Regions from separate parts of the Homo sapiens genome. Here region 2 is linked to region 1. Evidence: fine-mapped expression QTL. Tissue or cell type: whole blood. Region 1 holds a variant in brackets; the other region holds the start of a gene. All regions are shown on one strand. Distances are from middle to middle.

Region 1 (5,868 bases):
GACTAGGAGGTAGTAGGGATCGATTCTGGAGGCCTTTGAGTTAAGAGAGGCAAAATTTGCTGACAAGCACATTCATAGCAAGCCATCAGTAGATGGCAGCACTTTCCATTATGTTAGGTGGTACTCACCACATCCCCATAAAAGTTAACATCCCTATTTTACAGATGTGCAAACTGAGGCCCAAAGAGGTCGCTTAACTTGCCTAAGGTCTCACGGCTCAGTCTAGCTCCAAAGATGGTACCCCTCTATTGGGACGGCTATTCCCAAGCCCACACACCCGAACATAACACTCTCAGTGCCTAGATTTACATCTAAACCTGTACTCATCCATGTGGGCCCCAGGACTCCCGGAGCCATGTCCTCATCAGTCACATGGAGCCGGTGTAGAAAGTAGGAGCTGGGCCGGGAGAGGTGGCTCACAACTGTAATCCCGGAACTTTGGGAGGCCAAGGCGGGCAGATCACGAGGTCAGGAATTCGAGACCAGCCTGACCAACATGGTGAAACCTCATCTCTACTAAAAATACAAAAATTAGCTGAGCGCAGTGGCAGGCGCCTGTAATCTCAGCTACTCAGGAGGCTGAGGCAGGAGAATCATTTGAACCCGGGAGGTGGAGGTTGCAGTGAGCCAAGAACGCGCCATTGCACTCCAGCCTGGGTGACAGGGTGAGACTCTGTCTAAAAAAAAAGAAAAGAAAAGAAAGTAGGAGCCAGATGGGGAGAATGCTGGCCCAGGACACTTGCTTAGAGGCAGGTTGGCACAGGCACAGAGGGTCCACCCAGAACCTCCCAGCCCAGCATCTGGCTCCCACATCCAATCACGGCCTAGGCCTGGCACACCCCAGCACTACGTGCAGCAACATGTGAAACACAGTCACGCATACACACGGAAATGTGGCCTTCTGCTCTGGGAATGCATTTTCAGGCAGTGTGCAGAAAACACAGATTTGCTTCTTTTTTTTTTTTTTTTTTTTTTGAGACAGAGATTTGCTCTTGTCATCCAGGCTGGAGTACAGTGGCGGGATCTAGGCTCACTGCAACGTCTCCCTTTCAGGTTCAAGCGATTCTCCTGCCTCAGCCTCCTGAGTAGCTGGAACTACAGGCACGTGCCACCACACCCAGCTAATTTTGTATTTTTAGTAGAGACAGGGTTTCACCATGTCGGTCAGGCTGGTCTTGAACTCCTGACCTCAGGTGGTCCACCTGCCTCCGCCTCCCAAAGTGATGGGATTACAGGCGTGAACCACTGTGCCGGGCGTCTATCTCTTTATGTCTCTGTATCTCTCTGTTTTCTTTTCTTGTCTCTATCTCTGACCTTTGTCTCACTCTGACCCAGCTCTGTCTCTCTCACGCCTCCACACTCAGGATCCTCTAACTGCCGCAGAATGACTCTTGTCCCTGGCTGTGTGTTTCCATAGGACCTCACCTATTATGTACCATGAGAACCTGGCCTCTGGACAGGTGTGTCCAGCCCCAGGTCGGCAATTCTGGCTGGTTGCTCAGAATCACCTGGGGAGTAACTCACATAGCATAATTCTCTGGGCTTCTTTCTCTGAGATTTTTTTTTTTTTTTGAGATAGTATCTTGCTCTGTCACCCAGGCTGGAGTGCAGTGGCACAATCTCAGTTCACTGCAACCTCTGCCTCCCAGGTTCAAGTGATTCTCCTGCCTCAGTCTCCCAAGTAGCTGGGACTACAGGTGTATGCCACCAAGCCTGGCTAATTTTTGTATTTTTAGTAGAGACGGGGTTTCGCCATGCTGGCCATGCTGGTCTCAAACTCCTAACCTCAGGTGATCCACCCACCTCGGCCTCCCAAAGTGTTGGGATTACAGGCATAAGCCATCGCGCCCGGTCGTCTTTCTCTGAGATTCTGACCCACAGCTTGTGGGTGTGGAACTGGAGGAACCCACCTTTAAAATACTCCCCAGTGACTGGGACCCCTGCCTGCTTGTACTAGTTACTGCATCTGATTTTACAGACAGAGAAGAGTCAAGGCCCAGAGAGCAGACAGCTCACCCCAACATCACACAGCAGTCAGCTGCGAGGGGCTTGGTGCTACTCAGATTTCTCCTAAGAATGTTTGGAAACAACCTGAGGGAGAGTTAAGTAATAAAGGAAAATCACAAACAGAGACAGAGACCCAGAAAGGGACTCACGGGAATAAAAGCAGAAAGTGACAGAGATACATAGAGATGATGAGACAGAGACAGAGAGATCAGAGATAGGGTTCAGAAAAAAAGAAGAGAGAGGCTGGGCACAGTTGCTCACGCCAGTAATCCCAGCACTTTGAGAGGCGGAGATGGGAGGATCTCTTGAGCCCAGGAGTTTGAGACCAGCCTGGACAGCATAGTAAGACCCCATCTTTATTTAAAAAAAAGTTTTTATTAATTTAAAAAAAATGCAGAGAGAGATAAACACACATCAGAGGCTGAGAAAGACAAAAAGCTATTTGGGGGCCTAGAAAGACCCCCCACCCCGCCCCAGGAGAGATGTATTTTCTTTTGAAGGAGACAATACCGTCTCCTTGGCCCATGCTTTAATAGGCCCTACTTCCCAGAAACAGCCAGTGCCATGGTTTAGCAATCTCAGCCTTACCAAGCCAGGTCTCCTCCCCAGGCTTGATATGTAGGATGCACATTAAATACGTTTATATAACCTGCCCTCTGTGCAGAATCAAGGAGCTTTACATAACGTAGCCCTGTGAGTCATGCGGCAGACACGGGGCACTGACCTGACATGCCCAGTGAGAGGGGACCCCTCGCCCAGGACCTTTACCTGGAAGTGATTGTGAAGGATAAGGGATCATGCATTTCACTGAAGAGGAAGCAGAGGGTTAGAGAAGGCAAGGCACTTACTTGGGGTCACACAGCCAGGATTCAGCACAGCAAGGATTC[C/T]AACCACATCTGCTAGTGCCTTATCACGTGATCCTTTACAGAGTGGAGGAAACAATAATAAAAACACCTCTAGTAATACAACGACTGCTGTGTATTGAGTGCACCGGGCTGCAGTAAGTACTTTACAAACACCGTCTTATGTATTCCAAAACCCAGTGAGGAGCTGGACGCTGTGGCTCACGCCTGCAACCCCAGCACTTTGGGAGGCCAAGGCAGGAAGATTGGGTGAGCCCAGGAGGAGTTCGAGACCAGCCTGGGCAACATAATGAGACCCCCGTCTCTAAAAACAAAAAATAATAAAAATTAAAAATTAAAAAATTAGCCAGTGCCTATAGTCCCAGCTAGTTGGTAGGCTGAGGCGGGAGGATTGCTTGAGCTCAGGAAGTGAGGCTGCAGTGAGCTGTGATCATACCACTGCACTCTAGCCTGGGCAACAGAATGAGACCTTGTCTCAAAAAAAACCAACAAAATGGCCGGGCGCGGTGGGTCACGCCTGTAATCCCAGCACTTTAGGAGGCCGAGGTGAGTGGATTACTGGAGGTCAGGAGTTCAAGACCAGCCTGGCCAACATGGTGAAACCTCGTCCCTACTAAAAATACAAAATTAGCCCAGCATGGTGGCGGGTGCCTGTAATCCCAGCTACTCGGGAGGCTGAGGCAGGAGAATCACTTGAACATGGGAGGCAAAGGTTGCCGTGAGCCGAGATCATGCCATTGCACTCCAGCCTGGGCAAAAAGAGCAAAACTCCATCTCAAACAAAACAAAAAAAGCCCAGCGAGTTAGGGACAGAATCCAGTTATTAAATAACATAATTAAACCTATTTTATACGGAGCACTTATTATGTACTAAGTGCTTTACCGGATTTGATGGTCACAATTCTAGGGGTGGGTGATGTTATCACCTCCATTTCAGGAAGGAAGGAGGCTCAGAGGAAGTCACAGGTCAAGGTTCCGGAGTGGGTAACTAAACCCAGTCCTTGCTAGCCCTGTATCTCTATCACCTACTCCCATGCATACAGGTCCACAAGCATGCCTATGCACACGTGCAATCAATATTGCACTAACATCTCCAAACACTCTAGTTGAAATACCCAGAGCTCCCGCCTTATATCTTTTCTCTTCCTCAAGAAGGCTAACCCAGCCTCCAATCCCCTAAACCTTCATGAGCCAGGGAAGGAACCCTCTTCTTTCCCTCTAACGCCTCAGTTCCGCCACGCGGCCGGCCGAGGTCGGCGCTGTAAAATGCTCCTGCTCCTTTAAGAGAATGAACAGTCCAGGCCGGGCGCGGTGGCTCACGCCTGTAATCCCAACACTTTGGGAGGCCTAGGCGGGTGGATCAACTGAGTTCAGGAGTTCGAGACCAGACTGACTAACATGGCGAAACCCCGTCTCTACTAAAAATACAAAAATTGGTCGTGATGGTGCGCACCTGTAATCCCAACTACTGTGGAGGCTGAGGCAGGAGAATCGCTTGAACCCGGGAGGCAGAGGTTGCAGTGAGCCGAGATCGCGCCATTGCACTCCAGCCTGGGCCACAGAGCGAAAGCGAGACTCCGTCTCAAAAAAAAAAAAAAAAAGAGAGAGAGAATGAACAGTCGGCCGGCGTTGCCCGGCAGCGCCGCGCCGGTTGCCGGGCAACGTCAACAAACGACGCGGCCGCCGTCTCCGTGCGCCCGCCCCCCCCCCCCCCCCCCACGCCCGCGCAGACGCGGTGACGCGACGGACTGTGGAACGCCGTCGCCTAGCAACGCGAGGGCTGTTTGTCCCGGGCTGGGTGGCGCGGCCGCACAGGGCGCAGCCAGGACCGGCCCGGGCGGACAGACCGGCCCGCCGGGAGCCCGGGGCGGGGGGTGGAGGGGATTGCGGTGATGGAAGCGGGGGAGAACCGGGTTCCCAAATTACCGGTTTCCCTTTAGACAGCCGCCGTCTGTTGTCGCCCGCTCCTCCTGTCTGCCCCGGGACCGCCTCCGCTCGGGTATCTGTCCGTCTGCGCCCCCTCCTCCCCGGCATGTCCGTCTGTCCAGCGCCTCCCGCGCTGTGGCTGTCTCATATCCCCCCCAAACCATCACAACCAAAATAGGGACAAGCACACACTTCGCTGGCCTGCCGTTTCTGCCTTGGACTGCCGGATTTCCGGGTGCATTGTTGCGGTTGGGGTCCCCACCAGGGGAGACAGACAGACAAGGGGAGACAATCTGTTCACACTCAAGCCACAGCCCCAAAGCCCTCCCGTTCCTTTCCCCGCTCCCTTGGGGTTCTCTTGCCTGTCTTTCTCGAGCCTCTTTCAAGAGACAGGCAGCCCGTGGTCCTTCCATCCTGTGTCCGGGAAGCTGTCCACAGCTGGGAGGTTCTAACAACTCATCCCCAACACACACTCCCAACACCCCCCCATCCAGTAGCTTCATGTGACCAGGGCTGGGGCGAATCTCCGAGCAGAGAGAAGAAATTGAGTGTGTGACAGTGTGAATGGATGTGACTATAGGTGAGCAACAGTCGGTGACAATGTGCACATCTGGTATTTCCTGTGTGAGAGCAAAACTGCAGGACTCAGTGAGTGGTTTCTGTGGTTTGCACTTGTGTATCTGGGTGTATGGGAGTGTGTAGCCCTGCTGACTGTGTAGATATGAATGTGTGTGCAGTTGTGAGTCTTGCATGTGGTCATCTATGTGAAACAATGCCTGTATAAGTACCCATGGATGTGCACGGTTTTGCCTCTAGCCGTGCATTTCTGGTTCTGTGTGTGTGTGTTTCTGGTTTTTTCGTTTGTTTTTTAGAGATGGGGTCTGGCTGTGTTGCCCAGGCTAGTCTTAAACTCCTGGGCTCAAGCGATCCCCGCCGTCTCAGCCTCCCGACTAGTGGGGACTACAGGCAAGCGCCACTACACTCGGCTAATTTTCTGGTTTTTTTTGTAGAGACAGGATCTTGCTGTGTTGCTCAGGCTGGTCTCCAATTCCTGGCCCCAAGTGATCCTCCC
Region 2 (4,898 bases), 25 kb before region 1:
ATCTGAGGCCCTGTGAGTTCCTCTCCCCTTTCTTTTTCTTTTTTTGAGACAGTCTTGCTCTGTCACCCAGACTGGAGTGTAGTGGCACTATCTTGGCTCATTGCAACCTCCACCTCCCGGGTTCAAGCAATTCTGCCTCAGCTTCCCAAGTAGCTGGGATTACAGGTGCCCACCACCACGCCCAGCTAATTTTTTTTTTTTTTTTTTGAGATGGAGTCTTGCTCTGTCACCCAGGCTGGAGTGCAGTGGCGTGATCTCGGCTCACTGCAACCTCCGCCCCCCAGGTTCAAGCGATTCTCCTGTCTCAGCCTCCCAAATAGCTGGGACTACAGGCGTGTACCACCACGCTGGCTAATTTTTGTATTTTTAGTAGAGACAGGGTTTCAACATGTTGTCCAGGCTGATCTCGAACTCCTGACCTCAGGTGATCCGCCCGCCTCGGCCTCCCAAAGTCCTGGGATTACAGGTGTGAGCCACAGCACTTGACCCCTCTCCCCTCTTCAGGGCTGCCCATCCTCCTTCCTCCTAATGTCCCTTCCAGAAGGCTGAGAGCTCAAAATCTGAATTCAGCCACTTCTCCCCCACTCCTCAGCCTCCACTCTGGTCCCAGCCACCAGCGTTTCACCCTTGGACCACTGAAGTCACTTCCTCACCAGCTCCTTGCCCACACCCTCGCCCCCTGGAAGTCTGTCCCCTAACTAAGTCCTCATGTCCCTCCTCTGCTCAGAGCTGGTGGGTGGCTCCTGCCTCAGAGTGAAAGCCAAAGCTGTCACCATCACCCACAAGGCTCTAGATCTGTCCCTGCTCCTTGCCTCAGAAACTACACCTTCTACCACTTCTCCTTGCTTTCTCTACTCCAGCCCCACCAGACTTCGTTCTGCCCTTGAACACGGCAGGCTCTCTCTGACCTCAGGGCTTTGGCACTGGCTGTTCCCTCTACCCCAGATGTCGCCATGGCTCACTCCCTCACCTCTTTCACGTCTCTACCAAGATGTCACCTCCTCAGAGAGGCCCTCCCTTGACCTTCCTATCTAAAGTAGGAAGGGGCCAGGCATGGTGGCTCATGCCTGTACATCCCAGCACTTTGGGAGGCCGAGGTGGGCGGATCACTTGAGGTTCGAGACCAGCCTGACCAACATGGTGAAACCCGTCTCTACTAAAAATACAAAAATTAGCCAGGCGCGCTCCTGTAATCCCAGTTACTCGGGAGGCTGAGGCAGGAGAATCGCTTGAACCCAGGAGGCAGAGGTTGCAGTGAGCCGAGATGGTGCCAGTGCACTCCAGCCTGGGCAAAAGAGCGAGACTCTGTCTCAAAAAAATAAATAAATAAATAAATAAATAGAGTAGGAAGGTCCTCTCCCCCATCATGCCCTACATCCTTAGCCCACTTTCCTTTTCTTCATAGCCAATGCTCATCACCCGTCGATTGTTTTCCCTTGGGAAGGAGATTTCAATATTGCCAGGTCCTTCCATTTACCAAAATATGTCTAAAGTGTAGATTTTTTTAAGATTGCAAAACCTGGCGATTCTTAAACACGAGCAATAAATTCATGTCTTGAAAAATCAGGGTGCTGGCCTCGTAAAACACATCAGGGGCTACCTGCTGAATGCCAGTGTCTGGCCTCTGCCTTAGCCCTCTCTTAGAACCACCCATCCATTTCACAGATGGGGAAACTGGGACCTGGGGAGGACCAAGGACTGTTTCCCCAAGTCGTCCGTGGCCCCCAAATCCACTAACCCACACCCTGGTCCCACAGGCCCCATCCTATCCTCTTCGTCCTAACAGCCCCCAGCCTCCCAGGGGCCCCGCATCTCCTTGTCCTACCACTCCAGGAGGGACCTCATCCTCGTCGAGGGGTATCACAAATTTCTTCCTTGCTGGCGGCCCTGAGGGCTGGGGCACCCCCTCTTTGTCCTTCCCAGGGTCCATCTGGAGCCTGAAAGGGAAGGTGCCAGGAGCGAGTGAGCCACTGGCGTCTACGTTCTCATCCCGCAGCAGGAACCCCCCACTCACAGCCGTCCCCCACAAAACTCCGAGAGCTCCATAGCGTCAGGTCCCCAACACCCAGCGCTAGAGGCTCTGTAACGCCACGCCCCTTTGACCTCCACCTTCGGCTCGCCCCGCCCCTTACAGGTCCACAAGTCCCATCGCTCCGCCCCTCGCCCCCACCGGATTCTATTGGCTCCGTCCCCACCATCCCCCGCCTTCCGTTCGTCCGGCCCCCGAGGCTAGCATCTGGACGCCCTCCCCACGCCTGGCCTTGTCCATCTCTCAGACTCGGCAATGATTGGCTTCCGCGGCGCCAATCTCCACCCGCAGTCTCCGCCTCCCGCACCTGTGGTCCGGGCCTCACGGTTTCAGCGCCGCGAGGCCTCACCTGCTGGTCTTGGAGCCTCAAGGGAAAGACTGCAGAGGGATCGAGGCGGCCCACTGCCAGCACGGCCAGCGTGGCCCAGGGCTCGCAGCACTTCCGGCCTCTCTGGCCCCGCTCCCCAGGAGAGTAGAGCATAGAGCAGGGCGATCTCTGTACAACTCTCTATGGTTCTGGAGGACCGCGGAGGTCGTGGGAGGAGAGAGATGTGGCCTGAGGATCTGGCTCCCAAACTGTTAAGTTTCAAAGCCCTTACTGAGCGCTTCTGTGTGCCCAGAATCCTGGCAGGGCTCAGTGGAGAACAGATCGCAGGAGATCCAACTTGGTCCCTCCTCTCAGTAAGGAGAGACTTAAGTTTGAATCCAACTCAGACATTGACTTGGCTTCAGTTTCCTCATTCATTCATTTATTCCACACCTATTCCCCCCACGCGCTTCCTCTCTTCCCGGTCCTGTGCGAGTCCGTGCTGGTGACACAGCAGTGACCAACGACAGCCCCGTGTTGTCCTCCCGGAGCTTACGGTTCAGTAAGGGACACAGACACGTTCCCAGTGCTGACCCAGAATGGGCAGGTCTGGGATGGGAGATCCCGGGAGAGCCGTGGGATGGGGGTCAGGGGGAGCGCCTGACTCAGCCCCGGAGTCCGGAAGGGCTTCCTGGAGGAAGGGACATCTGAGCAGGGGCCTGGCTGATGAGTTAGTATTAGTCACTTCCTGAAAGGATAGTATCACACTGTTCTAACTTGCAGCTCTCTGATTACTAAGGAAATGGAATGTTTTTTGTGAAAGTATTGGTCTTGTAAATTTTGTCTTCTGTGAATTGCTTGCTCATATTCCTTGTCCATTTTTAAAATGGGTTGTATGGCTTTTTTATTACTATTAATTTCTAGGGGTACTTTATGGATTCTGATTCTAATCCTTAGTTACCCATATTGCAAACATTTCCTCCTAGTTTCTACTTTGGGCTTTAACTTTAGTTATTTTTGGCACAGAAGTTATTTGTGTTTATGCGCAACTATTTATCAATCTGTTCCGTTCTGACTTTTGCTTTTGGTGTGTTAAGAGCCCTGCCATAACCCAGGGTCATAATGATAAATTCTTTTTTTTCTTTTTTTTTTTTTTTTCGAGACGGAGTTTCGCTCTTATTACCCAGGCTGGAGTGCAATGGCGCGATCTCAGTTCACTGCACCTCCCCCTCCCGGGTTCAAGCGATTCTCCTGCCTCCTTAGTAGCTGGGATTACAGGCATGTGCCACCATGCCCGGCTAATTTTTTTTTTTTTTTTTTTTTTTTGTATTTTTAGTAGAGACGGGGTTTCACCATGTTGGCCAGGCTGGTCTCAAACTCCTGACCTCAGCTGATCCTGAGGTCACTTTGTGACCTCCCAAAGTGCTGGGATTACAGTGCACGGCTATAATGATATATTCTATCATTTCTTTTATCTACGTAAAAGATAAAAGCCCCGTGTTGTCCTCCCAGAGCTTACAGTTCAGTGAGGGACACAGACACGGTCCCAAACAGTAATGACCTAGAATGAGCAGGTCATCTGGCTTTAATCTATGTAAGATTTATTTATTTATTTATTATTTTTTGAGATGGAGTTTTGCTCTTGTTGCCTAGGCTGGAGTGCAATGGAGCAATCTAGGCTCACTGCAACCTCCGCCACCCACATTCAAGCAGTTCTCCTGCCTCAGCCTCCCAAGTAGCTGGGATTACAGGCTAACTTTTGTATTTTTAGTAGAGACGGAGTTTCACCATGTTGGCCCTGCTGGTCTCGAACTCTTGACCTCAAGTGATCTGCCCACCTCAGCCTCCCAAAGTGCTGGGATTACAAGCATGAGCCACGGTGCCTGGCCAAGATTTATTTTTGAAAGTGCACCGAGGTCGTTGTTTATGAGTGATGTAACCAATTGTCTCAAGTTGACCAAAGGTAGATCTTTTCTCCACTGTTCTGAAATTCTACCTTTATCACATACCAAATTCCCATACACACACGTCTATTTCTGACATTTCTGTTATGTTCATTGATCTTTTTATTTATTCTTGCCTGCATGTACATGACATCCCTCTGTTTCTTTGTTCACATCAGTCTTTCATCTATGGGTGTCTATCTGTGTCTACATTTTCCCATTTTACTTAATTTTTTTTTTCTGGGCATGGTGGCTAATGTCTGTAATCCTAGCACTTTGGGAGGCCTAGGCGGGTGGATCACCTGAGGTCAGGAGTTCGAGACCAGCCTGACCAACATGGAGAAATCCTATCTCTATTAAAAATACAAAATTAGAGTCCCGGTGCAGTGGCTCACACCTGTAATCCCAGCACTTTGGGAGGCCGAGACAGGCGGATCACGAGGTCAGGAGTTCAAGACCAGCCTGGCCAATATGGTGAAACCCCGTCTTTACTAAAAATACTAAAATTAGTTGGGCGTGGTAGCGCACACCTGTAGTCCCAGCTACTCAGGAGGCTGAGGCAGAAGAATCGCTTGAACCTGGGAGGCGGAGGCTGCAGTGAGCCGAGATTGTGCCACTG

Evidence for each region. PIP is the estimated chance that this variant, and not a neighbour inherited with it, causes the effect.
Region 2: it holds the start of ERCC1, and the variant in region 1 is fine-mapped to the expression of ERCC1 in whole blood (TOPMed, PIP above 0.99).

The regions. Positions count from the first base shown.
Region 1 is chr19:45,446,318-45,452,185 of GRCh38, forward strand. It overlaps a transcript of ERCC1 not described here. Among named protein-coding and RNA genes, the nearest start is that of MIR6088, 13 kb to the left of the region's middle. RefSeq lists silencers at 4,542-4,671, 4,832-4,881. The variant C/T (reference allele first, on the strand shown) is at 2,895.
Region 2 is chr19:45,421,445-45,426,342 of GRCh38, forward strand. ERCC1 (ERCC excision repair 1, endonuclease non-catalytic subunit) reads right to left here and starts at 2,473. Exons shown (of 10, transcript NM_001983.4): 1 at 2,337-2,473; 2 at 1,826-1,937. The coding sequence starts at 1,930. RefSeq lists enhancers at 2,459-2,548, 2,609-2,658, 2,907-3,201.